4 linked regions of the Homo sapiens genome follow. The protein of the gene in region 1 purifies or fractionates together with the protein of each later gene. This does not show direct contact. Each region holds a gene or a part of one and is shown in the gene's direction. Other genes may lie near its edges. The genes, in order: IGF2BP3, MTERF3, PTCD1 and LRRC59.

What was found.
Region 2: the proteins of IGF2BP3 (region 1) and MTERF3 purify together in Homo sapiens (co-immunoprecipitation; 2 studies listed by BioGRID and IntAct, with this or other methods). This does not show direct contact.
Region 3: the proteins of IGF2BP3 (region 1) and PTCD1 purify together in Homo sapiens (co-immunoprecipitation; 2 studies listed by BioGRID and IntAct, with this or other methods). This does not show direct contact.
Region 4: the proteins of IGF2BP3 (region 1) and LRRC59 purify together in Homo sapiens (affinity purification with mass spectrometry; 2 studies listed by BioGRID). This does not show direct contact.

What each region holds. Positions count from the first base shown.
Region 1 is NC_000007.14:23,313,473-23,320,499, reverse strand, and holds part of IGF2BP3 (insulin-like growth factor 2 mRNA-binding protein 3), read left to right. Parts: intron 1-1,245; coding exon 1,246-1,362; intron 1,363-2,786; coding exon 2,787-2,861; intron 2,862-6,846; coding exon 6,847-6,978; coding exon of another isoform or gene 6,979-7,027. UniProt on the Homo sapiens protein: RNA-binding factor that may recruit target transcripts to cytoplasmic protein-RNA complexes (mRNPs). This transcript 'caging' into mRNPs allows mRNA transport and transient storage.
Region 2 is NC_000008.11:96,258,611-96,266,457, reverse strand, and holds the start of MTERF3 (transcription termination factor 3, mitochondrial isoform 1 precursor), read left to right. Parts: upstream 1-4,847; 5' UTR 4,848-4,957; intron 4,958-7,757; 5' UTR 7,758-7,767; coding exon 7,768-7,847. Other genes in the region: PTDSS1 (phosphatidylserine synthase 1), read right to left, coding at 4,239-4,417.
Region 3 is NC_000007.14:99,421,784-99,428,810, reverse strand, and holds part of PTCD1 (pentatricopeptide repeat-containing protein 1, mitochondrial), read left to right. Parts: intron 1-3,194; coding exon 3,195-4,016; intron 4,017-4,853; coding exon 4,854-5,036; intron 5,037-7,027. Other genes in the region: ATP5MF-PTCD1 (ATP5J2-PTCD1 fusion protein), read left to right, coding at 3,195-4,016, 4,854-5,036. UniProt on the Homo sapiens protein: Mitochondrial protein implicated in negative regulation of leucine tRNA levels, as well as negative regulation of mitochondria-encoded proteins and COX activity. Also affects the 3'-processing of mitochondrial tRNAs.
Region 4 is NC_000017.11:50,394,524-50,402,390, reverse strand, and holds the start of LRRC59 (leucine-rich repeat-containing protein 59), read left to right. Parts: upstream 1-4,867; 5' UTR 4,868-5,073; coding exon 5,074-5,178; intron 5,179-5,887; exon of another isoform or gene 5,888-5,984; intron 5,985-7,398; exon of another isoform or gene 7,399-7,402; coding exon 7,403-7,462; exon of another isoform or gene 7,463-7,467; intron 7,468-7,867.

The sequences.
Region 1 (7,027 bases):
TATGTGCACTGCTTCTGTACTTTAGAACTGTTAGTTGACTGGTAGCATTACTGAACCTTGAACCTTGAATTGGCCTTTTTAGGAGCCCAGTCACTGTGAACTCTTGAGCAAATGTGTCCTTTATCCCTGCAAGGACTATTTGAAAAGAGACCCAGGAAGGGCACAACTGGCTTGAAGTGGGAAGTAGTGAAGGAATGAGGTACATAGATAAAATCTATTTATGAATGACCTTTCAGGAGTTAGCCTACAAAATATTTTCTAATTTTTTCATGTATAAAATGCAAAGGGGGCTGGGCGCAGTGGCTCACGCCTGTAATCCCAGCACTTTGGGAGGCCAAGGCGGGTGGATCATTTGAGGTCAGGAGTTCAAGACCAGCCTGGCCAACATGGTGAAACCCTATCTCTACAAAAAAAAAAAAAAATTAGCCGGGTGTGGTGACAAGTGCCTGTAATCTCAGCTCCTTGGGAAGCTGAGGCAGGAGAGTAGCTTGAATCCGGGAGGTGGAGGTTGCAGTGAGCCGAGATCGTGCCATTGCACTCTAGTCTGGGCAACAAGAGTGAGATTCCATCTCAAAAAAAAAGCAAAGGGAAGGCACAGATGGAAGGAATAAGGAATTCTGTGGGAAAGCATCTTAGGGCATCTTACCACTAAAGTGAATTAGCTCTCTCCTAATCCTGTCCTGTGCTTGGATGTGATAACTATTGAATGACAGTGGTAAGGTTTCATACAATTTAGTCATATGTAACAAAATTCAGCTTTTCTCTTAAACACTTCACTGTGTATGTGTTTAAGGAGTGAAACCTACATAGATAAGGTGTGGAGCTGGCGTCCTTGAGTTCTGTTGTGTTTGATATGTAGCCCAGAATTTCATTTACTTGTTAAGAATCTACCTTGAGAGTGGTAGGGGGCTCTTACTTAATTTTTAATGCAAGCATGTCCCGCTATTCTAATATGATTAAACTTTACAACATCTACATATCTTTTAAATCCATAACTCAGTGACATTTTAAAGTTTAAGGCAACAGTAGAGAAAAGTGAAATTTTAAATACCACTGTTTTCAGGATGACTGTATGAGATCTTCTTGACCTATTAGGTAAGGTCTGGTCAACTTCTTATGGTAGCTTTTCCTTAAACTTTCCTGGTATTCCTACTGCATGAGAAGGTGTCCTTCCTAAAGCTAATGTTAACAAAAGCCTGATTTGTAGCAAATAAACATGGGTGTCCTGGCTTTCTTTTCTAACAGCAATCAGAAACGGAGACTGTTCATCTGTTTATCCCAGCTCTATCAGTCGGTGCCATCATCGGCAAGCAGGGCCAGCACATCAAGCAGCTTTCTCGCTTTGCTGGAGCTTCAATTAAGGTACTGTTCTACCAGCTGTGGTTCTCTGGTTCTTTAAGTAAGTTACAGAAATATGAATCTTCTTGCCACTTTATAATTTGAATAGAATGTAAAAGACACTGTTAGGGTTACATAAGGATATGAAGAAACCCCCAAACAACAGTGGCTTACACCAAGGAGGCTAACTTCTCTGTGCAGAAAACACAGTTAGGAGGTGAACATCCGGGCTGGGTGTTGGCTCTGCCCCCACCAAGTCCTTGGACCTAAGTTCCTTCCAAGCCACCTTCCCCAGGTACGGCCTTGGTCCCTCTTGGTTCCAGATTGACACCATTCAGTGCTCCAGGAATCAGGTCTGTTGCCCAGCCAGTAGGAGAGGAGAACATAATAAAGAGCTTTTCTTCTAGGGAGGTTTCTTGTTAGCTACTGTGGGATATTTCTACCTATATTTCCATTGCCCAGAACTTGGCCAGACGAAGTTGAAGGGGCAAAATACAGGCTATGCACAGTCAGCTAAACATTTTGTAACTACAGAAGGTAACATACCAGAGGACAAATAATGGTGTCTGCCGTAATAGATAACTGTGTGTTCTGAAGATTCTGTATTTTGATGCCTTATTTAAGGAAAATAAAGGTTGGCCAGGTGCGGTGGCTCACACCTGTAATCCCAGCACTTTGGGAGGCCAAAGCAGGCAAATTGCTTGACCCCAGGAGCTGAAGACCAGACTGTGCAACATGGTGAGACCCCATCTCTACAAAAAAAAAAGTGTAATTAGCCAGGCATGGTGGCACACACCTGTAGTCCCAGCTGCTTGGGAGGCTGAGGTGGGAGGAACACTTGAGCTTGGGTGGTTGAGGCTGCAGTGAGCTATGATCACACCACTGCACTCCAGCCTAGGCCACACAGTAAGACCCTGCCTCAGACAAACAAAGGCATGTGGTGTGCAGTATCCTTGAAACTTAGGGTACAGAGATTCCTAGAGTGTGTTGCATACACAGGAAGCCCAAGGAGCCCTGATGCAAGTGGGCCAAGGACCATACTTTGAGCACCACTGGTGTAGTGAACACAGGCAATGGAGACAGACCCAGCTCTCCCTCTAGCTCTGTTAGCTGTGTGATCATGGTCCAGATAACTCAATTTCTCCAGCCTTCCATTTCCGCATTTGTGAAGTGGAGGTAATACTACTTCATCAGGACGTGGTGAGGATTAGCTGAGAGACAGCACGTGGAGGTCTCCATTAGGGCCCGGCACAGAATAAGCATATAGTATATGCAGGAGGGAGGCCTAAATTGTGAACCCACAGGAATTGCTGCCTCTCCCTAATTTCCTTCACGAAGGCTTTAATTCTGCATTTCAGCCAGTCACATGCAAATGTTAGGCTGGTTGGCCCAAGATGCCTATCAGTGATACCTGAAAGTATCATAACTTGTTGTTGGGTCTGTTACAGATTGCTCCAGCGGAAGCACCAGATGCTAAAGTGAGGATGGTGATTATCACTGGACCACCAGAGGCTCAGTTCAAGGTATGTGCTCTAGAGTATGTGCTATGTCCACAGGTAACAAATGCACAGGTAGTCCATAACCTGGCGTCTCCCTTAAATATGTCTAAATCTCAGAAAGAGTCAATGGAAATTCTTATCTAAGAGCTGAGTAGAATCACACTCAAAATTATATTTCGAAATTAACCAAAAGTCTTTAATTTTAAGAGTTCTGTACTGGTTGCTGGATTTACCTGTCTCTCAAAGGTTAATTTTGCTTAATGGTTTGTAATCCTATGCTAAGGTGAGACCTTAAAATTTACAAACCTGCCAGGTTAATATGCCTTGGAAACTTGTTTTCAGATGTTTTCCCTCCTGTCCCTGAGATTGCCTAGACTTGAATTAAAATGCCCCCTTTTTCCTTACCCTTGGATTATCTCTGTTAGACCCTGCCCATAGACTCTACAAATCTCTCTAATCCCTGGGATCTTAGAGATAGGAATGGCAGGAGCTCTTGTAGCATTTGTTCTGGTATGAACCATTGCACGTTTAGTGGGATTTGAGGTCTTTGGGGCTGCAGTGTGCCTTTCAATGTCTACTGAGAGATGGTAGAGCTGAGACTTGGCAGCCAGGCTGCTAGTTCAAATCCTAGCTCTGCCATTTGCCTTGTATGACATTGGGCAAGTTACTTAACCTTTTTCTGTAAAACCAGGGATAAGAGCACCTACATCCTAAGGTAGTTTAAGGTTTACACAATATATGAAATGTTTAGAAAAGTGCCTAACACATGGGCAGCACAAAATTAGCGTGCTGGGGGTATTCAACAGACTATGGATGAATCAGACTAAGACCATGCCAAATTCATAAATATATTCCTTTTAGTGTATGATTTCTCCCACAAAATTTAGTATGGGTGTCTTGTCTTAGAACATTTAGTGGCTGTGTAAGAAGACAACTATTTAACCTTAAGCTGTAGTTTTTTTTTTCTCTTTTTTTTTTTTTTTTTTTTGAGACAGAGTCTCACTCTGTCGCCCAGGCTGGACTGCAGTGGCGTGATCTCAGCTCACTGCAAACTCCACCTCCTGGGTTCAAGCGATTCTCCTGCCTCCGCCTCCCGAGTAGCTGGGATTACAGGCATGTGCCGCCACGCCCAGCCAATTTATTTTTAGTAGAGATGGGGTTTCACCATGTTGGCCACACACTCAAACTCCTGACCTCAAGTGATCCGCCCACCTTAGCCTCCCAAAGTGCTGGGATTACAGGCATCAGCCACTGTGCTCCTGGCCAAGCCTTAGTTTTTTTAGCCTTAAAGTGTAACAGTAACTAGTAACAGTGCATACAGTTCTCTCCCCACCCCACCTCTCTCCCTTAAATCAAACAAAAAAAATCACTTTCTTTGACTTCTATTTTCTCTGGGCCATTTTTTCACTAAAAACCCAAAGCTGCTTTCACTTATGTGAAGAATGGGAAACGAAGGAGGTGCTTTGAGATGTGGGTGGTTAGGTGAAGAAAGAAAATCATGTGAAGAAATTTATTCCTTCACAGCAGCCTTGTGATCCAGGCAGTTCAAATCTTAACTCAGAATTGTTGAAAACTGCTTCCTATCCCAAACTCTCAGGGTCACTTTTAGTTTGAAATCTTAAAAGATAAATACAAACATGTCTTTCCTTGGTGCTGAGCTTTTAGTCTTATAAGTAGAATTACTGTCCTGCAACTCCTATGATGTTTGTATGATAGGAACTTCAAAGTTCTTTCCCTGTATTCACTAATAAAACTCATGTTTTATAGTTAACTTAAATGTAACACTTAAGCCATAGTAGTTAAATTTTATTTATGTGATTGGTGACAATGCTAAATGAATGTTTTACTTTAGAGATCTAAGGAATGGTAAACCACCTACCCCGTATTTTTCCTTACAAATTCAAGAGCTTCAGTTTTGGAGGATAGTGTATATCCCTAGTGTCTTTTTGACTGTCTTAAGTAATAGTAATATCTACGTCATTGGCCTGAGGCATTAAGGATCATTGGAATATAGGGTATCAAGATGAATTTTGTTTTGTCGGTAGTGCCCTAAAATGAGCTCAGCTTTCTGAATCAGTGAACGCGTGTTGGGTACTATTGTTTTTTGTGGTTTACCCTGGCAGCTTGTCAAACCAACTCTCAGGCTCCTTTCTGCTTTGCTGTATGTAATAGGTTGTTTATATATAATAGGTTGTTTATATAGTTGCATGCAGTAGGTGATAGGATGTATTGACTCTAAATATCAGAAGTGTCTTGGCCAGGCGCGGTGGCCCACGCTTGCTATCCCAGCACTTTGAGAGGCCTAGGTGGGTAGATCACTTGAGTCCAGGAGTTCCAGACCAGCCTGGCCTACATGGCAAAACTCCATCTCTACTAAAAATACAAAAATTAGCCAGGCATGGTGGTGGATGCCTGTAATCCCAGCTACTTAGGAGGCTGAGGCAGGAGAGTCACTTGAACCCAGGAGACAGAGGTTGCAGTGTGCTGAGATCGCACCACAGAGAAAGAGACTCTGTCTCTAAAAAAAATAAAATAAAAAAATAAAAAAAAATAAAAGGCAGGGCACAGTGAGTGGCTCATGCCCATAATCCCAACACTTTGGGAAGCCAAGGTGGGTGGATCACCTGAGGTCAGGAGTTCAAGACCAGCCTGGCCAACATGGTGAATCCCCGTCTCAACTAAAATAACAACAAAAAATTAGCTGGGTGTGGTGGCGGGCACCTGTAATCCCAGCTAGTTTGGGAGGCTGAGGCAGGAGAATGGCTTGAACCCGGGGGTCGGAGGTTGCAGTAAGCCGAAACCATGCCATTGCACTTCAGCCTGCATGACAGGGTGAGACTCTGTCTCAAAAAAGAAAAAAGTGTCTTACCTTGATGTTGTAGCCTCTTTAAAATATTCAAAGGAAAAACCACCTTTCTAAGAGTATGAAACACATTTAAATTGAAAACATTTTTCTCAGCAGGTTTCTAACTGGCCCATGTAGATGTGAGCTTGACTTTTAGTGAGCTTGGCATAGCTGACTCTGCAGTTCTGTCTCTTTTGCTCAAAAAAAATGTGACCAGGTGTGGTGGCTTGCACTGGTAATACCAACACTTTGGGAGGCCAAGGCAGGACTCTTGAGCCCAGGAGTTTGTGATGAGCGTGGCAACATAGCAAGACCCCCATCTCTATAAAAATTAGTGGCGCAGTGGCTCACACCTGTAATTCTAGCACTTTTGGAAGGCTGAGGTGGGCACATCACTTGAAGTCAGGAGTTCGAGACCAGCCTGACCAACATGGTGAAACCCCATGCCTACTAAAAATGCAAAAATAATTAGCCAGGTGTGGTGGCTAGTGCCTGTAGTCCCAGCTACTCAGGAGGCTGAGGCAGGAGAATCACTTGAACCTGGGAGGCGGGGGTTGCAGTGACCCAAGATCGTGCCACTGCACTCCAGCCTGGGCAACAAAGTAAGACTCCGTCTCAAAAAAAAAAAAAAAATAAGTCAGGTGTGGTGTTGCATGCCTGTAGTCTGCTACTCAGGAGGCTGAGGTAGGAGGATCGCTTGAGCCCAGGAGGTTGAAGCTGCAGTGAGCTATGATTGTACCATTGCACTCCAGCCTGGACAACAGGAGGACCCTGACTCCAACAAAAAGGAAAGAAAAATGCAACTGATGTCTCATGGCCAGCATGAGAAGTTTTACCTATCACAATTTTAGTACGAATGGCCATTTGCCCACAAAAATTCGTTTTTATTAGGTTATTAATTGCCTTTAACTGTTTTCATCAGAAGAATATGGTTTATCCTTCTTTCACCAAGCATTCAGTTGCCTCTACTGTGATGGGCAGTAGTTATTGTCAACCTTTTAGGACTTCTAACTGCTCTCTTCTATGTTATTTTCAACAATCTATGAAATGTAGATGTATCACTGCAAAGGGCTATCCCACTTGGATTTGGGCCATCTTTCAAGTTAACTGACCTTTTCCATTTCATACATGAATGACACTAATAGGATGTGTTTTCATCTGCAGGCTCAGGGAAGAATTTATGGAAAAATTAAAGAAGAAAACTTTGTTAGTCCTAAAGAAGAGGTGAAACTTGAAGCTCATATCAGAGTGCCATCCTTTGCTGCTGGCAGAGTTATTGGAAAAGGAGGCAAAACGGCAAGTACTTCAGCAAAACCTGTGCAGTGGTATGAAAGGGAAAGCGTTG
Region 2 (7,847 bases), on another chromosome or scaffold:
ATATGACGGTGAACTGGAGTTCCAAAGCCAATAAGGGAAATTAAGTAAAAACCATTATTAACAAATCAATCAGTCAATCAATCAGTCTGTCCATTTCCCTGTCCTTGCCTGTCTCCTTAGTTCTAAATCGAGGAGAAATGAAGCATAGACAAATTGATGATCACTTAAGTACACAAATCCGCAGAAAGGCAACGTCTTCTAGGTAAGTAACAATTTTTGTTGGACAAGTGCTAACAAAGGCTGATTCTACTGTTTAATGGCAGGTGCCTCTTAAGGAGAGGTGGGCTTCTTTGAATGTGAATTAATAGATTCTGGTGTTTTCTAAATCTAAAGCTTGAGTTTTTTAAACTAAAGGCATTCAATATTTCCAAGTTTACCAACCCCTGAATGCAGAGTAAATATGAGGGTATCTTATAGGTAATTATTATACTCTGAGCTTGAGACAAAAGTTTTCCTTGCCCTACTTTGCTAACAAACTTCTAAGACATATGCGTAAGCATTTATTTATAAAAATACTATTTATTTTTTAATAGAGATGGGGTCTTGCTATGTTAGCCAGGTTGGTCTTGGACTCTTGGCCTCAAGCAATCCTCCCACCTTGGCTTCCCAAAGTGCTAGGATTACCGGCGTAAGCCATTGCACCCAGCCTACTTATTCTAAAATGTGGGAAAATAAGTTTTTGGTTTTCTTTTGAGACAGGGTCTCATTCTGTCGAGTGAGTAGGGTGGAGGCTGGAGTATGGTGGCGTGATTCAGCTCACTGCAACCTCTGCCTCCTAGGCTCAGGTGATCGTCTTACTTCAGCCTCCAGGTGCATGCCACCACGCCCAGCTAATTTTTGTTTTGTTTTGTTTTGTTTTGTTTTGTTTTGTTTGTTTGTAGAGATAGGGTTACACCATGTTGTCCAGGCTGGAAATGAGCTTTTTCAAATAGGAAAATGATTAGGTAGTATCTAACTTTATTTTTAATGATGGTGATAAAGACAGGAGATATTTAAATACTATGGTTTAACAGGGAATTGACCTAAGGGCCATCTAACAAAAGAACTACTTGACAAATCCAAACTTGTCTCAGACTTCAGTGCAAGGTATCTAATCCTCTGTAATTTTAAATTCTTGCTGGATCTCTGAAGCATGTGACAGTACCCAAGTACTGTTTCTCACATACTGGTTATATGACATCCCAAAAGAATCCTATCTCCTCGTTCTCTTAGACAACTAGTCTTTGCAAAACAAACTTTAAGACATATCTTTTAAGTTTTACTGAAAGAATTGCACTGAACAATTGTCCAACTAAAATCTTATAAAATAAATAATAAGGCACTGGAGTTAATCATTACAAAAGAACATAGGATACATTTTCATTTAAGAAGTCGTTACTTTCCGTCTTTATGGAGGAATATAGAGCTATCATTGTAATGCCCCACTTAAGTCACAAATCATTACAAAAAATGAGTAAGATTTAGTAAGTACGAATTCTATTAATGGTGCTTATGATTTTATATAAAGTGAAACTTGTTATTAATTAGTTCTTCATTATGTGATTTCTGTCTCTTTATGAAATTAGTGGAAGAAATAAAATTGTTAACATTTTTGGATGAGACTACAGTCTGAAGTTCAGATTATGGTTCTTCTATTATTTTGGACAAGCTGTTAAAATTCGTATTCATTTCTTATACTTTCACTGCTGCAATTTATTGACTGCCTTGACAGAATATGATGTAAAAGGAAATTTCAGAAGATTGTGACTTTTTATATCAGAAAAGAGGAAGAGAAACCTATTTTGAAAGGACCTAGAATAATATTAAAAATGAAAGGCTGAAACAAATGGCTCATTCTTGCTTCTCATTATTTAAAACAAAATACCATAATTATTTTTCTAATTTCCAGAGAAACTCCCTCACTAATTTCATTATTTCAAGCCCACACCTAAGATGAAGTTAAACTGAAGTTAACATCAAACAGGTATGTATGTTATCTAATGTCCATTTTTCCAGTGCTTTTATCCTTCTCAATTACAGAGCATACTACATCCTCGTTCAATAATAAATATAAATTAGAAGACAGTAGCATTCAATGAAATCACATCGTAATAACCACTAATGTTTATTAAGCACTTAATACTTGCCATGCACTGAGCTAAACAGATTATCTAAAAAGATGAATTTAATCCTCATGACAAATAATCCCGACAGATTAATGTATTGATATTTTCATTTTACATACAGATAAGGAAACTGAGGCCTAGCAAAATTATGTGGCCACACAGCTATTAAGTGATAAAATCAGGCAACATAATGAAGTATTTGAAAGTAACCATAGTTAGGGACATGATTCATTTCTCTCCAAAGCTAGAAATATGTCTGGTCAGGTACTGTGGAAAGGTCTGGTCTTCACCTGCTGCACAGCTTTAGCAGATTTTATAGTAATAGTGGCAAGATCCCTCAATCATTAAAGAGTAAGCAATTGTTACTTAAGCTTTATACCTTTAGGTAGATTCTTTCAAATGGATAAACACTTACATAACAAGAACCAAGAGTCAAATGAATCCCAGAGGTAAGGAACAAGTGTGATGTGGGAGGATATTAGTTTTATGAGGATTTGAAAAACTGCAGTTATTCCTAAGGGAGGCACCACCGGCACTTGTGTGTGTGTATGCAAACGACTGTGTAGAAGACAATTCCCTTTATGTTGTACAGCGCTGTCACATATGTCACAATACATTTAGTATCCGTTAACTGCTCCCCCTCCCAAATACTAGAAGTTCTCTCAATCCTTGTGACTACCCAATATATATATCCCTACACATGTTCTGCTGACCCTGACAGAGAACCTTGATTGTTGGATAAAAATACTGGGAGAGAAGTAACTGACATGAATTGTACATTGTGCTCCAGGGACTCTGCTAAATGCATTCACACACATTCATTTAATTTTCATAACCCTATATAAGTAGATATTTCATCCCCATTTTACGAGTGTGGCCCCTGAGGCTCAGAGCAAGGTTATGCAACTTAATTAAGGACACACAGCCAGTTTTGAAACCAAAAGTGTGGCTCAAAAACTACTCTACTCTAAGTTGGCCTTTTAAGCCATAATGGTGAGAGAGGTGTGACTTCCCTTTCTTTAAAGAGGTTCATTCAGAAAGTATAAATCATTCTAAGTAGGAACCACGGTGTGTACCTCCTTATGAACCAAGGATGAATTAGTTCTCTAGGTTAGGAATGAGGAGCCACAGGCGCAGTGCCAGAGTTAACATGAGGTGTGTTCAAGATTTGGGCTGGGCAGCTCCTATGAACCGGTATATATTAGAATGTGTGTGTATGTTTTCCAGGGAATAAGAGAGTTGTGTTATGCTGTGTGAGGTTTATGTGTTTCATTTAACACACAGCAGTTACTATACCCCAGGCACCATTAAAATTGCTGGACAAGATCACATTTCAGCACGTATGTTAGGTAATGAGTGAGCAGGGTATGCACCGCGTGATGTGTGGCGGGCTGGTGTCTGTGCAGCCATGTACACAGATGATGGGTATTGGGCTGTGCTGGAAAGGAAAGGTCCGCTGTGAGGTGTGTGTTTAGAGTGGCAGTTTGTGCCGTGGTACAGATGGTAGTGTTTGAGGCTGGGGGAAGTGTTATGCTGGATGACTTGTGTGCAATGCATACGGGAAGTGCTGCACAGGAAAGACCGTGTATGCAGCACACATGTGCATTTTTTGTGCGTTACGGATAGTGCCGAATACCGGAGTTCCACAGGAAGGGATCTAGGTTGTGTCCTGGGCCTGTGTATGGTGCCTGCAGGCGCTGTGGATTGGGGTGCTTTGTATGTGTAGCGGTGTGTGCTGAAAGTGGTGCATACGACATGATTCATGCGGTGTGCTGGGTAGGGACGAAGGCTGGAGCAGTGCAGAGGAGGGGCCCGCGTCGTGATGTTGTGTGGAGCGATGCTGAGTGCGGTGGGTGAGGGGGCGATCGTGCTAGGTGACTCGCGTGCGTTCCCCGTGTAACCGGAGGCGCTGTATGGAGAAGGGGCACTGAGGGGTAGGGGAGCAGGCTAGCGTACTGTGAGACACCGGGCGGGCGGAGGGGCCGCGTGGGCGGCGGGCTGCCAGTGCGTGTGCGTGGAGCAGCCAGCCCACTTCCTCACCCAGAGCCATGCCGGGCCCCCCTCCCCGCCACCCTCCCTCCCGCCTCTTCCCTAGCCCTTGGACGCGCCCCCCGCTCGGCTGGGCCGCCCCACCTGGTAAAGGCGAAGTACATGAGGCTGACGATGGTGAAGCTGAGCAGGGTGATGGTATGCGGCCGGTAGAAGAAGTCAATGGTGATGTCCTCCACTTGCTGCTCGTTGATCATCCGGAAATGCATTTTGTAGTTCACATCATCCTTGCTTAGGGTCCGGCTCCCCACGCAGGACGCCATGGCCCGCCTCCCCGTCCTGCCGCGGTGGCGGCGGCCCCAGCCCGAGAAGGCCGGGACCCCGGGGGTGACTAGCCACAGTAGGCTAATAGCCGGACGGCAAAGCCGGGTCTGGCGCCCAGCAAAGGCTGGGAGCAGAGGGAAGGACAGGCGCGAGAGGGCGGGGTCGCGGCGCCGCCACCGCGGCCTGGGGCAGGGGACGCCGCCGGCCGTCCCCACGCTGTCATCCTAGCTGAGGCATCTCTACCACTCGAGGAATTTTCAGACTCCAAGTCCACAGGACTTCAGAGGAATAGCGAGCCGGAGAAGGGTAGCCGGGGCCCCTGGCTGGCTCTTTTCAGAGCACGTAGCCCGCTGTCTCCCCGCGTAACCCGGCACATGGTCTCGCCCACTCCGGGCGCGGCCCACGTGGGCCCGGGAGCGCGGCTGCGCTGTGTAGGGCGGGCTGAGGAGCCGGCGTGCGGCGCGGCGGGACGGGACGTGCGGCCCAGCGAGTTGGTCGGTCCCGGGGTCACCCGCTACGGGAAGCAGGCCTCGCCACAGGTAAAGCAGGAGCTGCCCCAGCACGAGGATCGCGCTCCTGGCGAGGGTTCAGGTTCCGGCGCACCCGCGTCCAGACCGCGCCCCAGGGCCTCAAGGGCCTTTAGGTTTTCGCGGCCCAGTAGAGGGTGATTGGTTTTGTTTTGTGTTTTTCCCTGGCTGATGTAGTGAAAACTCAACCATGCTGGCTAATTAGCGCAGTGTGAGAAGCCTCAGGAGGGGGCTCTGCCTTCCTGCGCAAGTTTGGGGAACTGAAGTGGGCTAAAATGGCCTGGGAAGTATTGAGAGACCCTTTATTAGGAAGCTGCCCCCATAACCTCCCTTTCTCTCCTGATTTCATTTATAGCATTTCGTAGGTAGAAATCTTGAACTCTATTTCAGTGCCTTTTTCTAGCGAAGCACTAGGCACTCATTGAGAACAGTATATATGAATTGTTAAGAGACTTCAGTTTCTTTAAGGGTTTTCTGTAATTTTCCTGATGAAAGGACCTTGTTAGAAGACTTCAGGTTACCACCTTACAGGGCTTTTATACACATCTGCACATCCCCTACCCGCTTTTGCATACTGTGTAAGCAAGTGAGTTAACTGTACTTGCCATTGATTTATTTCCATTCCGCAAACATTAGAGCAGTACAAGGCTCTGGGAAAGTGGAGAATAGTCCCCGGAAGGATGGATCCAGGGATGAGACCCAGCTCTGCTCTCGTGCATGAACAGTTAATCAATTGTTAAGATGTGTAGGCAGCAATGAAAGGATGTGGAGAAGATAGTGCACTTGTAAATAAAAATGCAAGGATAAACATTAGTTGTATGCACAAAGATCTTTTAATGACGGGGTGAAATTTGAAAGTGAGTCTTCCTGATGTTTAAGTGGTATTGAGTGTGGAAAGGCTTCAGGATGAATTTGGGATTTCAGGAGTTTGAAGTAGGATGAAGTGCTTAGACGTCAAAAAATGTTAGAGCTGATAGGGGCCTTAAGAATCATCTTATTGTACCCCTAGCCTTTTAAAAAAGCATTATTTGAAGAATAGTTATTGACCCCACCCCCACCCCCCACATCATGGGCTAGACTGCTGCTTTTGTTAGACTGCTGCCAGAAACAGCCTTGTCAAGGTAGCACAACCGAGGTCTTCTGACTTTCAATTTAGTGCCCTTATGACTACCGTGCAGAGAATGAATGTTGTAGGTTTGAGGGAAAACTTGGCACATTTGGAGTCCCATTTCCCACCAAAATCTAACAGAAACCACCTATCCCAGCAGGGTATTGTGAATACTTACTTCTTTTCTAAAATCATCGCAGAATGGGCCGAGCGCAGTGGCTCACGCCTGTAATCCCAGCACTTTGGGAAGCTGGGTGGATCACCTGAGGTAAGGAGTTCGAGGCCAGCCTGGCCAAGATGGTGAAACCCCGTCTCTACTAAAAACACAAAAAATTAGCCGGGCATAGTAGCGGGCGTGGGTAATCCCAGCTACTCGGGAGGCTGAGGCAGGAGAATCACTTGAACCTGGGAGGCAGAGGTTGCAGTGAGCCAAGATGGTGCCGTTGTACTCCAGCCTGGGCAACAAGGGCGAAACTCCGTCTCAAAAAAAATAATAATAATAATAATAATAAATAATTGCAGAATGAAAGGAAACTTTCACTTTTGTAAAATCTCTTTCAGCAAACTTCCCAAAACTACAGATCTCCAAGAAAAGATTAGACCCTCAAGTATTTGGTCTAATTTAGAGCATAAAACAAGCTGAATTCCAGTATGCAGAAAAACAAAGTATAAAGTTGTAGGCAGCAATTAATTCAGCAGAATTTTTGTATTTGGTTGTGTAACCAATAATAATGGCTAACATTTATTGAGCATTTCTTATATCCTGACTCCATCCTGTGTTTTATATGGATAATGTTATTTAACGTAAGATTATATGCATCAAATTTACCTTTCTAATTAGCTGGCTAAATATAAAATCCCTTCATATTCCTGGAGTTTAACATAGCACTAGCCTTTCCTGATAAAAATATTTTTGAAAACTACTTTTTCAGTCAAAATATACAGGTATTAATTGCTGGTTGCTTATTTATTTCTGTCACTTGGTTTTGTTACTAGTTTTGACCTTTTCTTTTTGAAGGCTTTTTTCTCCTTTCCTACAGTGAAACAAAACTTGACAAAACTGGTTTTGTTCAATTCCCTTTGGAAGAACAGCTTTATCTGTGAAGTAATCAACAGTGTTCAGCCCTGAGAATGAAGCAAGAAACTGCTTTCACTGTTCTGTATATCAATGATAATATTTTGATGATTTGTTTAGGACACAGTAGATTTCTGTTTTTTCATTTTGGGACAAATTTATATACATAAAATGCATTTGAATAATTCAGTGTTACTTTGATCAGCAATGTGCTGCGGAAACACCCTTCACACCAAATTTCAAGAACACTTATTTGCATCAGCTTATTCTCTTTAAATGATTAAATTAACAGATTAGTGAGGTCTGCTGTCACTTGAACATTTGCAGATTTTTGTTTTAAGCATTTTTCTTACACCAGTGTCATTGCATTTTGTTTTTAAATTGTAAAGTATATCTTTATTTTTCCACTCAGAAGTTCCTGTCTGTTGGTTTGTAACTGAGATTGCCTTGTTGTTGGCTTTTCCTGTACATAAGAAACATCTCACTATTTTAGACTAAATATATATTTAAACACCTTTCAATTAGAAAAAAATAATTTCCAGTTTATCTTTTTGTTGTTTGAATACCGTTTTAAACATTTAAGTAAATTAAATTTCTCTTCTTTTGACGGTTATATCTTTCCTTTGTAGACTAAGAAAAATGGCTTTGTCAGCCCAACAGATACCCAGATGGTTTAACTCAGTTAAGTTGAGGAGCCTCATTAATGCTGCACAACTCAC
Region 3 (7,027 bases), about 76 Mb from region 1:
AACCCTCCCACACCCCCATTAGCACTTCTGCAGGTGCAACCCAGGAGTCATTCATTCATTCATTCATTCATTTATTTTGAGATGGAGTCTCACTCTTGCCCAGGCTGGAGTGAGCGATCTTGGCTCACTGCAACCTCCGCCTCCCAGGTTCACGCGATACTCCTGCCTCAGCCTCCCGAGTAGTTGAGATTACAGGCGCCCGCCACCACGCCCAGCTAATTTTGTATTTTTAGTAGAGACGGGGTTTCACCATGTTGACCAGGCTGGTCTTGAACTCCTGGCCTCATGTGATCTGCCCGCCTGGGCCTCCCAAAGTGCTGGGATTACAGGTGTGAACCACAGCTCCCCGCTGGAGAGCTTTTTTTTTCTTTTTCTTTTTAATGTTTTTAATTTTTTTTTTTTTTTTTTGAGATGGAGTCTTGCTCTGTCGCCCAGGCTGGAGTACAGTGGCATGATCTCGGCTCACTGCAAGCTCCACCTCCTGGGTTCACACCATTCTCCCGTCTCAGCCTCCTGAGTAGCTGGGACTATAGGCGCCCACCACCATGCCCAGCTAATTTTGTTTTTGTATTTTTAGTAGAGACAGAGTTTCACCATGTTAGCCTGGATGGTCTCGCTCTCCTACCTCGTGATCCGGCGCCTTGCTCTCCCAAAATGCTAGTATTACAGGCGTGAGCCACCGCGCCCGGCCAATTTTTTTTTTTTTTTTATTGATCATTCTTGGGTGTTTCTTGCAGAGGGAGATTTGGCAGGGTCATAGGACAATAGTGGAGGGAAGGTCAGCAGATAAACAAGTGAACAAAGGTCTCTGGTTTTCCTAGGCAGACGACCCTGCGGCCTTCTGCAGTGTTTGTGCCCCTGGGTACTTGAGATTAGGGAGTGGTGATGACTCTTAAGGAGCATGCTGCCTTCAAGCATCTGTTTAACAAAGCACATCTTGCACCACCCTTAATCCATTTAACCCTGAGTGGACACAGCACATGTTTCAGAGAGCACAGGGTTGGGGGTAAGGTCACAGATCAACAGGATCCCAAGGCAGAAGAATTTTTCTTAGTACAGAACAAAATGAAAAGTCTCCCATGTCTACTTCTTTCTACACAGACACGGCAACCATCCGATTTCTCAATCTTTTCCCCACCTTTCCCCCCTTTCTATTCCACAAAACCGCCACTGTCATCATGGCCCGTTCTCAATGAGCCGCTGGGCACACCTCCCAGACGGGGTGGTGGCCGGGCAGAGGGGCTCCTCACTTCCCAGCAGGGGCGGCCGGGCAGAGGCGCCGCTCACCTCCCGGACGGGGCGGCTGGCTGGGCGGGGGGCTGACCCCCCCCACCTCCCTCCCGGACGGGGCGGCTGGCCTGGCAGAGGGGCTCCTCACTTCCCAGTAGGGGCGGCCGGGCAGAGGCGCCCCTCACCTCCCGGACGGGGCGGCTGGCCGGGCGGGGGGCTGACCCCCCACCTCCCTCCCGGACGGGGCGGCTGGCCGGGCGGGGGGCTGACCCCCCCACCTCCCTCCTGGACGGGGTGCTAGCCGGGCAGAGGGGCTCCTCACTTCCCAGTAGGGGCAGCCGGGCAGAGGTGCCCCTCACCTCCCGGACGGGGCGGCTGGCCGGGCAGGGGGCTGACCACCCCCACCTCCCTCCCGGACGGGGCGGCTGGCCGGGTGGGGGGCTGACCCCCACCTCCCTCCCGGACGGGGCGGCTGGCCTGGCGGGGGCTGACCCCCACCTCCCTCCCGGACGGGGTGGCTGCCGGGCGGAGACGCTCCTCACTTCCCAGACAGGGTGACTCCCGGGCGGAGGGGCTCCTCACTTCTCAGACGGGGCGGCTGCCAGGCGGAGGGGCTCCTCACTTCTCAGATGGGGCGGTTGCCAGGCAGAGGGTCTCCTCATTTCTCAGACGGGGCGGCCGGGCAGAGACGCTCCTCACCTCCCAGACGGGGTCGCGGCCGGGCAGAGGCGCTCCTCACATCCCAGACGGGGCGGCGGGGCAGAGGCGCTCCCCACATCTCAGACGATGGGCGGCCGGGCAGAGATGCTCCTCACTTCCTAGATGGGATGGCGGCCGGGAAGAGGCGCTCCTCACTTCCTAGATGGGATGGCGGCTGGGCAGAGACGCTCCTCACTTTCCAGACTGGGCAGCCAGGCAGAGGGGCTCCTCACATCCCAGACGATGGGCGGCCAGGCAGAGACGCTCCTCACTTCCCAGACGGGGTGGCGGCCGTCTTGGCACTTTGGGAGGCCAAGGCAGGCGGCTGGGAGGTGGAGGTTGTAGCGAGCCGAGATCACGCCACTGCACTCCAGCCTGGGCACCATTGAGCACTGAGTGAACGAGACTCCGTCTGCAATCCCGGCACCTCGGGAGGCCGAGGTTGGTGGATCACTCGCGGTTAGGAGCTGGAGACCAGCCTGGCCAACACAGCGAAACCCCGTCTCCACCAAAATAATACAAAAACCAGTCAGGCGTGGTGGCGCGCGCCTGCAATCGCAGGTACTCGGCAGGCTGAGGCAGGAGAATCAGGCAGGGAGGTTGCAGTGAGCCGAGATGGCAGCAGTTACAGTCCAGCTTCAGCTGGGCATCAGAGGGAGACTGTGGAAAGAGGGAGAGGGAGACCGTGGGGAGAGGGAGAGGGAGACCGTGGGGAGAGGGAGAGGGAGAGGGAGAGGGAGACCATGGGGAGAGGGAGGGGGAGAGGGAGAGGGAGAGGGAGAGGCCCGGCCAATTTTTTAAATGTTTTACAGTTGTTTTGAGACACTCTCGCTCTGTCACCCAGGCTGGAGTGCTGTGGCATGATCACGGCTCACTGCAACCTCGATCTCTGGGTTCAAGTGATTCTCCCACTTCAGCCTCCTGAGTAGCTGGGACTGTGGGCATGCAATACCACACCCAATAATTTTTGTATTTTTAGTAGAGATGGGGTTTCACCATGTTGGTCGGGCTGGTCTCGAACTCCTGATCTCAAGGAGTCTGCCTGCCTTAGCTTCCTAAAGTGTTGGGATTACAGGCGTGAGCCACCGCGCCTGGCGTATTTTTTTGAGGCAGGGTCTTGCTATGTTGCCCGGTCTTGTCTCGAACTCCTGATCTCAAGGGATCCTCCCATCTAAAACTCCCAAGGTGCTGGGATTCCAGGCGTGAGCCCTGCGCCCAGCTGCTGAATGGGAGCACCCAGCTGACGTTTGTCTCTTCCGTGGCAGGTGTGGCGGCTGATGCTGAGTCTAGGGCTACAGCCGAGCCGGGACAGCTACAACCTGCTGTTGGTGGCAGCTCGGGACTGTGGCCTAGGGGACCCCCAGGTGGCCTCAGAGCTGCTTCTGAAGCCCAGGGAGGAGGCGACTGTGCTTCAGCCCCCAGTGAGCAGGCAGCGGCCAAGGAGGACAGCCCAGGCCAAGGCAGGCAACCTCATGTCAGCCATGCTGCATGTGGAGGCCCTGGAGAGGCAGCTGTTTCTGGAACCTTCTCAGGCACTTGGGCCTCCAGAGCCTCCGGAAGCCAGAGTGCCCGGCAAGGCCCAACCAGAGGTGGATACTAAGGCAGAGCCCAGCCACACAGCAGCCCTCACCGCAGTGGCCCTGAAGCCACCTCCCGTGGAGCTGGAAGTCAACCTCCTGACCCCCGGGGCCGTTCCCCCTACAGTGGTCTCCTTTGGAACGGTGACCACCCCAGCTGACCGGCTGGCCTTGATAGGGGGCCTGGAGGGCTTCCTGAGCAAGATGGCAGAGCACAGGCAGCAGCCCGACATCAGGACCCTCACGCTACTGGCCGAGGTGGTGGAGTCCGGGAGTCCTGCAGAGTCCTTGCTGCTGGCCCTCCTGGATGAGCACCAGGTAGAGGCCGACCTGACATTCTTTAACACGCTGGTGAGAAAGAAGAGCAAGCTGGGAGACCTGGAGGGGGCCAAGGCGCTGTTGCCGGTCCTGGCAAAGAGGGGCCTCGTCCCCAACCTGCAGACATTCTGCAACCTGGCCATCGGGTGCCACAGGCCGAAGGACGGTCTACAGCTTCTCACAGACATGAAGGTGAGTGGACTCGGGCCTGGGCAGGACACCCATGGTGCTCAGGAGCACTCTGCAGCTCAGGAGGAAAGTTTGAGGGGTCTGCAGACCCCCCACCTGGAGAGGATGAACTGTGCATGGGGCAAAGAGAGTGGGGTCAATGACCTTCTGGTCTTTGGTCCCATTTTGGGGGAAGCAGACCCCAGTGAGTGCTTCAGGGCTGGGCGTAGAGACACACGGATGTTCCCATCCGGAAGAAGGTGGCCGTGGGTTGACACAGGGCTGGGCACAGGCCTCGGCCCCAACACTCTAGAGGTATGGCAGGGATTCTCAGAATTCCTGAGGGGCCGTGGGCAGTTTTCAAAGCCCCCGAGGTCTGTGCCTCCCACCTAACCCCCATTGGAAGTGCTGCGTGGATTTCATCCGACCACAGCAGAGGCTGCGTCCTGGGTTGTCGGTGTCCCCAGGTCCATCATCCTCTGGCTGTTTTCCTGGACCCTACCGGGCTCACCCAGCCAAGGCTTGCACTTTTCTAGGCCAACCACCACCTGGTGACCGTGCGTCACAGGAAGCCCACCCCAGGGAGCAAGGAGGTGGTGTCTCCCACATCATTTTCTGCCTGAGTCAGTCGGTGTCTGAGAGCAGCACGAGCGTCCTTTTCCGCAGCTTCTTTAGGGCTGAGCAGAGGGGCTGGGCTTGGCTTTCCTGCTGGAGAGGGATATTCAGCACATTGTTGCTGCCAAGTTTGCCTTGCTGGCCCTGGCCGCTGGTCCCGGGAGCCAGCTTGATTGACAGAGGGTGGGAGCTGCTGGGTCCCAATGGCTGCCATCATCTTGATTCTACGATGTCCCTGTGTTCTAGAAGTCCCAGGTGACCCCCAACACTCACATCTACAGTGCCCTCATCAACGCGGCCATCAGGAAGCTGAACTACACCTATCTCATCAGCATCTTGAAGGACATGAAGCAGAACAGGGTCCCGGTGAACGAAGTGGTCATCCGCCAGCTGGAGTTTGCAGCCCAGTACCCTCCCACCTTTGACCGGGTGTGTGCCCCAAGCTCAAAAGCTCATCAGCTCCTTCACCATTGCTACCCCCTCCCCCCACCACCCAACCCCGGTTCTGGCCCTTGGGATTGTGTTGCCATGCTTGAAACTGTCCAGCAGCTTCCCTTAGGAGCAGTACCCAAGTCTGTAGACCACAGCCTGCGAGTCCCTGTCTGCGTGGCTCATCTCATGTCTCAGCCTTGCGTTTGCTTTCTCTGTCTGTCCCAGTGGCCTTCTGTCAGTTCGCAGAGGCCACCAACCTCTTGCCTGCTTCGGGATTGGTGTTCCCGCTGCCTCAGGTGGCACCCACTTTTCCTGGAGGTCTCTGCTTAAGTGGCCCTCAGACATGCCCAGCTGGCTGCCGCTCTGACCTGGGATGAAAGTCTCCCCTCCCCCTTCCCACTCTGTTCCTTTATGCCGTGTCCTACAGTCTTGGATCATGTGCTCATGGGCAGCCCTGGCCTTCCCTGTATCAGGCTTCTGGAGGCAGAGGCTGTCTGCTGTGCTCATCTGGGTCCCCAGCACCTGCACGTTGCTGGGTACTCCAAACAGGTTGTCGCTTGCTCAGGGACTGGGCAGGCAGTGAAGTGGTGTCATTGTCTGGGGTGAATACCTGAGATTTGTTGTGAGCCAAGATCGCGCCACTGCACTCCAGCCTGGGCGATAGATGGAGACTTGGTCTCAAAAAAAAAAAAAAGAGGTTAAGAGCTGAAGTTTAATAGGCGAAAGAAAGAAGAGCTCTCGCCCGGTGTGGTGGTGAAAAAAAAAAAAAGAGAAGAGCTCTCTCCTTGCAGAGAGAGGTGCCAGAGAAGTGGGTTGCCACTTCCATAGTGTAATGCAGAGGTTTTGTAGATGAGCTTGGGGAGGTGGTGTCTGATTTACAGAGGACGCAAAAGATTAGTTGGACCAGGTGTGCCATTTACATAGCATGTATAAAAGCTGGTGCCCCACCCTAACCTTTTATTATGCAGACAGGTGGCCATCGCCATGTTGCCTGGTTCTTTACTGTACACATGGCAACAAAGAAGGGAAGATGGGGCCCCCACGTTGAACATATCTGGCTCCCAGGTAGCCCTTTTCTGTTGGCACAGCCGCCAGCATTTACCCCTGCAAGCTTCCAGTTTGCTTATCTATGTCTGCAGCTCGATTTTTCAGGCTGCTCTTTGTTAGAAAAGAAATTATTTGGGGGCTGCTTTTTATTAAAAGGGAAATTTCGCCAAGGACTCTGTTGCCCTTATTATCTGCCTAAATAATTTCTTTCAACCTCCTGTATCAGCAGGAGCAGGGCAGAGTCATGGAATCTGCTTTGTCACGGCCACAGCCTCTCCCTGCTGTTCTGAGGCTATCAGGCTCTGGGGTTTGGCTTTTGGGTCCATCGAATCACACTCTGTGCTGAGCATCTCCGGAGCATCGAGAGCCACTATGGCTTGAAGCACAGCCCGGATGGGGCGGAAACAAGTAAATGGGCAGGGACACACACAGCTAGAGGGTGCGGGGTCAGGAACGCCGTGCAGGTGTCACGCCTGAATGCCATTTTGAGGGCTTCCTACAAATAGGTGGGACAGCAATGGAAATTGTGTCTGGCTGAAGGCATAGCTGGGCATTTTTGAACTGTGTCTGTGCTTTGAACTGTTGGTTGCAAGCCTTTTCTCATTGATTCCAGGGTTTTTTATATATTCTGGGTACTGGTTTTTTGTTGATCACATGTTGTGCATATCTTCCTAGTGGATTGTCTCTTCCCTCTGGCGTAGGGCTCACTAGGGGTTCAACTCGACAGTCACAAGACTATCATAGACCTAAAGCATATCATATTTAAGTCACAGACAGATGTCCCTGACTTAAAGATGATTCTACACAGGATTTTTCAACTTTGCAATGGTTTTATCAGGATGTAACTCTGTAAGGATCGACTTTGTGCGGGGTTAGTTTCTACTGAATGTATATCACTTTTGCATAATTATAAAGTCAGGACCCTCTGCTGTGTTGCCAGC
Region 4 (7,867 bases), on another chromosome or scaffold:
AAAAATACAAAAAAAAAAAAAATAGCCAGGCGTGGTGGCGGGCACCTGTAGTCCCAGCTACTCGGGAGGCTGAGTCAGGAGAATGGCGTGAACCCAGGAGGCAGAGGTTGCAGTGAGCCGAGATCATGCCACTGCACTCCAGCCTGGGCAACAGAGTGCGACTCCGTCTTAAAAAAAAAAAATAGACCTAGGTAAATTCTCAGATAACCCTGATGGCTATATTGATGTTTTACAAGGGTTAAGACAATCCTTTGTTCTGACATGGAGAGATATAATGTTACCGCTAGATCGGACACTAACCACAAATGAGAGAAGTGCCGCCATAACTGCAGCCCGAGAGTTTGGCGATATCTGGTATCTCAGTCAGGTCAATGATAGGATGACAACAGAGGAAAGAGAACGATTTCCCACAGGCCAGCAGGCAGTTCCCAGTGTAGACCCTCATTGGGATGCAGAATCACAACATAGAGATTGGTGCCACAGACATTTACTAACTGGCGTGCTAGATAGAAGGACTAAGGAAACTAGGAAGAAGCCTATGAATTATTCAGTGATGTCCACCATAACACAGGGAAAGGAAGAAAATCCTACTGCCTTTCTGGAGAGACTAAGGGAGGCATTGAGGAAGCATACCTCTCTGTCACCTGATTCTATTGAAGGCCAACTAATCTTGATAAGTTTATCACTCAGTCAGCTGCAGACATTAAAAAAAAAACTTCGGAAGTCCACCTTAGGCCCGGAGCAAAATTTAGAAACCCTATTGAACTTGGCAACTTCGGTTTTTTTATAATAGAGATAAGGAGGAACAGGCAGAACAGGACAAATGAGATAAGAAAAAGGCCACCGCTTTAGTCATGGTCCTCAGGCAAGCGGACCTTGGAGGCTCTGGAACATGGAAAGGCTGAGCAAATCGAATGCCTAATAGGGCTTGCTTCCAGTGCGGCCTGCAAGGACACTTTAAAAAAGATTGTCCAAGGCCGGGCGCGGTGGCTCACGCCTGTAATCCCAGCACTTTGGGAGGCCGAGGCGGGCAGATCACGAGGTCAGGAGATCGAGACCATCCTGGCTAACACGGTGAAACTCCATCTCTACTAAAAATACAAAAAATTAGCTGGGCGCGGTGGTGGGTGCCTGTAGTCCCAGCTACTCAGGAGGCTGAGGCAAGAGAATGGCGTGAACCCAGGAGGCGGAGCTTGCAGTGGGCCGAGATCACGCCACTGCACTCCAGCCTAGGCAAAAGAGTGAGACTCTGTCTCAAAAAAAAAAAAAAAAAAAAAAAAGATTGTCCAAATAGAAATAAGCCACCCCTTGTCGATGCCCCTTATGTCAAGGGAATCACTGGAAGGCCCACTGCCCCATGGGACGAAGGTCCTCTGAGTCAGAAGCCACTGACCAGATGATCCAGCAGCAGGACTGAGGGTGCCTGAGGCAAGCGCCAGCCCATGCCATCACCCTCACAGAGCCCTGGGTATGCTTGACCATTGAGGGCCAGGAGGTTAACTGTCTCCTGGAAACTGGCGTGGCCTTCTCAGTCTTACTCTCCTGTCCCGGACAACTGTCCTCCAGATCTGTCACTATCCGAGGGGTCCTAGGACAGCCAGTCACTAGATACTTCTCCCAGCCACTAAGGTGTGACTGGGGAACTTACTCTTTTCACATGCTTTTCTAATTATGCCTGAAAGCCCCACTCCCTTGTTAGGGAGAGACATTCTAGCAAAAGCAGGGGCCATTATACACTAGAATTAGGAGAAGGGAAAAGGGTAAATATATATACAGACTCAAAGTATGCTTACCTAGTCCTCCGTGCCCATGCAGCAATATGGAGAGAAAGTGAATTCCTAACTTCCAAGGGAACACCTATCAAACATCAGGAAGCCATCAGGAGATTATTATTGGCTGTATAGACACCTAAAGAGGTGGCAGTCTTACACTACCGGGGTCATCAGAAAGGAAAGGAAAGGAAAGAAGAAATAGAAGGGAACCGCCAAGTGGATATTGAAGCCAAAAGAGCCGCAAGGCGGGACCCTCCATTAGAAATGCTTATAGAAGAACCCCTAGTATGGGGTAATCCCCTCCAGGAAACCAAGCCCCAGTACTCAGCAGGAGAAATAGAATGGGGAACCTGACGAGGACATAGTTTCCTCCCCTCAGGATGACTAGCCACTGGAGAAGGAAAAATACTTTTGCCTGCAGCTAACCAATGGAAATTGCTTAAAACCCTTCACCAAACCTTTCACTTAGGCATTGATAGCACCCATCAGATGGCCAAATTATTATTTACTAGACAGGCCTTTTCAAAACTATCAAGTAGATAGTCAGGGCCTGTGAAGTGTGCCAAAGAAATAATCCCCTACACTACAGGCCATACATTTCAATCCCTGTATCTTTAACCTCCTTGTTAAGTTTGTCTGTTCCAGAATCGAAGCTGTAAAACTACAAATGGTTCTTTAAATGGAGCCCCAGATGCGGTCCATGACTAAGATCTACCGTGGACCCCTGGACCAGTCTGCTAGCCCATGCTGTGATGTTGGTGACATCAAAAGCAACCCTCCCGAGGAAATCTCAACTGCACAACCCCTACTATGCCCCAATTTAGCAGGAAGCAGTTAGAGCGGTCATCGGCCAACCTCCCCAACAGCACTTGGGTTTTCCTGTTGAGGGGGGCACTGAGAGACAGGACTAGCTGGATTTCCTAAGCCAACTAAGAATCCCTAAGCCTAGCTGGGAAGGTGACCGCATCCACCTTTAAACATGGGGCTTGCAACTTAGCTCGCACCTGATCAATCAGGTAGTAAAGAGAGCTCACTGAAATGCTAATTAAGCAAAAACAGGAGGTAAAGAAATAGCCAATCATCTATCGCCTGAGAGCACAGGAGGAGGGACAATGATCGGGATATAAACCCAGGCATTCGAGCCGGCAACAGCAACCCCCTTTGGGTCCCCTGCCATTTTATGGGAGCTCTGTTTTCACTCTATTAAATCTTGCAACTGCACACTTTTCTGGTCCGTGTTTGTTACGGCTTGAGCTGAGCTTTTCCTTACCGTCCACTACTGCTGTTTGCTGCTGTCGCAGACCCGCTGCTGACTTCCACCCCTCTGGATCTGGCAGGGTGTCTGCTGGGCTCCCGATCCAGTGAGGCGCCCATTGCTGCTCTGGATCAGGCTAAAGGCTTGCCATTGTTCCTGCGTGGCTAAGTGCCTGGATTTGTCCTAATTGAGCTGAATAGAGCTATAACACTCATTGCATGGCCCAAGATTCCATTCCTTGGAATGCGTGAGGCCAAGAAACCCAGGTCAGAGAACAAGAGGCTTGCCGCCATCTTGGAAGTGGCCCGCCACCATCTTGGGAGTTCTAAGAACAAGGACCCCTGCCACCCACCCCCCGTAACAATTGCACTTACTTTATTTGGTGTTCATAGTTTCCCTCTGAGACAAGATTTTTTATTTTTTATTTTTTTAGAGATGGGGTCTTGCTATGTTGCCCAGACTGGTTTTGAACTCCTAGCCTCAAATAATCCTCTCATCTTGGCCTCCCAAGTATTGGGATTACAGGTGTGAGCTATCCTGCTCGGCCCCTCTGAGATAAGCTTTAATATCCCTATTTCAAAATGAGTAAACTGAGGTTTGGAGTGGGTAAAGTGCTTCCTTCCTTCATTCATTCATTCATTCATCCATCCATCTATTCATTTATTCAACAGACATCTGAATGAGTAGCTACCCTGCATCAGGGTATGCCAACTCTGGGCATACGAAGATGATTAAGACAAAAATCCCTGTCCTCACAGTCCAGAATGAAGGACAGACACATAAAGATGAGTATAATACAAGGTGGATCATGAATTGTAGCTAATATTTATTGGGTACTTACTAAGTGCCAGTGACTGCTGTAAGCTCTTGGTGTGTTTTACTCCTTCAGTTCTCCCCAACCTCTGTTAGCTACATGTCTCATAGATTGATTCATAGATAAGACTGAAGCCTGGTGATTGTCTACGGTTTTATAAGTAGCAAGTGGCAGAGCCAGGATGAATACCCAGTGGATAGGTATTAGTGCCAGAGGTCCCACTTGGCCATCAAGCTCTACTGTCTCTGATGATAAAGTAGCAAACAGGGACCTAAGTTGGTTGGGGGGGGCGCTAACTCAGTCTGGCATTCACGGTGTTCAGGGGAGATTTCCTGAAGGACTAAGGAATTAGCTAGACAGAGGTGAGTGGGGGGGAGGGAGGGCCATCGCTGGGGAGGGCCAGACGTGGGAGCCACCTCCTGGAAATCTACACAGCATCTAGGCCAGGCAGGGACTGGAGCGTGTGAGGAAGCTGCGAAAGCAGGCAGGACCCAGCTTCCAAAGGAAAGTGGTCCGTATCCTAGAGGTAGCTGCAAGTTTGAAGGGTTTTACGTAGGGGAGAGACTTGGCCAGATTTTTAGAAAGATCACCGGGGAGCTGGGTGAAAGTGGATGGAAGGACAGAGACAAGCACTGAGGCAGTGAGTGGGGAGGAGAGAGGAGAAATTCAGGAAGAAGAGTTTTCCCCATGATGGTTATTCGGGGGTTAAGTAGAGGACAGGGAGCAGTTTTAGAGGACACCCAGCTTCTGCTCCTAATCAGGGGGATTGGGGTGATCTGATGAGGTCAGTATTGGATGTCAACCCAGTCTTCTGGCGCCCAGTCCGTGCCCTTTCGCCTCGTGGCACTGCCAGCAATAATGCCCGCGGGCCACGGGTGAACGTGAACCGAGCTCGCAGCCTCCAACCCCACCCCTCCGGCGGCGGCGACGTGCAGTGCATCACCCTGGGCACCAGGGGGCGTGCCCGCACACGCTCGGGCCGCTCTGGCCCAGCCCATCTCAGTGGTCGCGGAAGGTGACGTGGACACGGAAGTGGTCGTCGTCGCGGCACCGGTGGGAGCTAGGCGCGAGGCTCGGAGTGCGGCCAGCGGGCGGAGGCGGTCTCGCATCGGCGGCGACGGAGGGCTCAGGCGTCGTCGTTTGGGTGGGGGGCCGCTGAACTGACAAGCGACATTTCAGCTCCTTTCACCCGCCGGAACCCCGGAGCCGGGGCCCGCTCAGCCGGCGTTACCATGACCAAGGCCGGTAGCAAGGGCGGGAACCTCCGCGACAAGCTGGACGGCAACGAACTGGACCTGAGCCTCAGCGACCTGAATGAGGTCCCGGTGAAGGAGCTGGTCAGTATCGTCCCGCGAGGCCCAGGCGCCCACCTTCGCCGGGCGCTGGCCCCTACGTGGGCCACTTACTTTCCTCTTCTCTAAAAGCATCAGTTTCCTTTTCTTTAAAAAGAAGCGGGGTGGTGGGACTAAGTCCCCTAGGAGGCCGCGTCCAGCCCAAGGTTCTTCCCGGGATGTACACGTGTCACTTTGGCGCAGTTCCAGAACATAGGGAAGATCTGCTTCTCTGGCCCTAGGCTTTTTACAGGCTAAGAAGCGAATCTGTCACCTTTGCGGGGCTTTCACAGCGCCCACCTCCGTGCCCGACTCTGAGTAGGAGCACACGGAGCAGTTACTGGATGTATTCGAGAATGAATGAGTGACTTGTTCCAGGGGAGTAGGCCTCCTGGTAGACCTGGGTGTGGCCCAGAACCTGGCTCTTCTAGGAAGCTGGCAATTCCAGCTGGCTGCCCGAGCCCTGAGGCAGCCTAACTCGAAGAAAGTAAAGTCTCCCCCCAGCTTGGCTGGTAAACTGTCATCTGAATTCCGCTGAAACTGGCGGGAGTCCCTTTCGCCCCTCTCTCCCCCAACCTTTCCCCTGTAAACTGAAGCTTACAGCTCCAGAGAGATAGCAGGCATCTAGTTTTGTCAGCGTGGAGCTAGTTCCCACATCCCTCCTTTTCCCACTCCGTTCCCCCTCCCACCCGCGCCAACGCCCTACTAGACTCACTTTGGGTGACCCACACTTTGCTTTCTGCCGTTGATAAATTACATTTGCCTTGGGCGCTGGGCCCAGTCTTTCTTCCACCGTGGACGGGTATTACAGTGGTTAGAACCGGGTTCCTAGCTCCTCCCAGCTCCATTGCTTAATAGCCGAGTGCCCTTGGCAAGCTAGTTAGCCTTTATGCCTAGATCTCCTCATCTATACAATGGTGATAATAGTTTCCATCTCATACGCTTATTGGGAGGTTAAATACCATTGTAATGGAAAATGCTTGGAAGGAGCAAATACTGATACTTGTAGCTGTTGTTGTGTTTTTCCCGCTGTAGTATTTAAAACTTTTTTAGGTGGTCAAACTTCACTTTTACGACTTTGTGACAGAAAGTGCAGGTTGCCAGAGGATCCTTAACTGAATATATGCCTCCTTTTCTACCCCAGGAAGATAGATGGCCAGCCTTATTTCACCCTGCCCTAGGACTGCTCTCTGAAACCATATACTCCAGGCATCTGAACAGTCCAGCATTAACCTTAGGGAGAAAGTTTTGCTGAGCTTGTCCAGCCTGGACACCATGGGAAAATAGAGATGGGCTGTGAGGGCCTTTTTTTTTTTTGGATGATGGAGTTTTGCTGTTGTTGCCCAGGAGTGATCTCGGCTCACTGAAACCTCTGCCTCCCGGGTTCAAGCGATTCTCCTGCCTCAGCCTCCCGAGTAGCTGGGATTACAAGCGTGTGCCACCATGCCTGGCTAATTTTCTATTTTTAGTAGAGACAGGGTTTCTCCGTGTTGGTCAGGCTGGTCTCGAACTCCTGACTTCAGGTGATTGCCTGCCTCAGCCTCCCAAAGTGGTGGGATTACAGGCGTGAGCCACCGCACCCGGCAGGGCCTTGTTTTTTCACTCTGTCATTCACTCCGCTACTTACTCGATCAGTCATGATTCAGGCAACATGTATGGATATTGAGTACCTGTTCTGAGGAAGGGCCTGAACTGGGGAATATGGAAATTGCAAAGCTTTATTAGACACTGTCCCTGCCCTGAAACCTAATAAGAGGGACGCTGGGTAATATTTATTTTTAAAGTGCTAGGAATAATGTCTAAGAATCTAAATTTTGCTTGCCTGCCTGCCTGCCTGCCTTCCTTTCTTTTTTTTTTTTTTTGAGATGGGGTCTCACTGTGTTGTGCAGGCCGGCCTCAAACTCCTGAACTCCTGGGCTCAAGCGATCCTCCTGTCTCAGCTTTCTGAGTAGCTGAGACTATGAGACTACAGGTGTGAGTCCCTGTGCCTCGCCTAAGGTTTACCTTCTTGGAGGTTGTACAGCCACATCCCTTCTCTTTGCATTCTTCCTTAGATCATGGTTGACTGGCTTATTTTTCCTCTTATTCCCAGGAACATTACTCTTTACTGCCATTTTAAAAGGCCTTTCCTAATCATGGGAACATTCTCTGGAAAATGCTTCATTAACATATGTCAGTGAATTGTTCCAGATGTTGGTCTGACATGTTTTTCTCATCCTCTTTTACCTAGGCTGCCCTTCCAAAGGCCACCATCCTGGATCTGTCTTGTAATAAACTGACTACTCTACCGGTAAGATTGGCATGCAGCCGTGACTCCTTCTGGTGCCTTGGATGCATCTCCTTCCTGTTTCGGGGGTTGAGAGGGGGGTGGGAGGGTGTCATAAGGTGTAATTTCAGGATAGGCCTACAGGCAGGCTATAGCTAAATCTGAGTGTGTAGGGGAGGCACAGTGGAATGGAGTGGTTGGTCTCAGTGGGAAAGGAATTGAGATGGAGGCCTCATTCTTCAGAACAGTGGTAAAGTCAGTCCACAGAAAACTAAACTCAACAGGGTGCTGAGTAACTTACTGGGCTCATCTTTTTTCTACATTATTTTATTCCTCTGAAAAATAGTTTACCTCCCTACTGCATAGAGGATGCTAGAGACCATTTTGTAAGTTGCTCTGCGTTCCAGGGAGAAAGCTGTGAACAGCTTC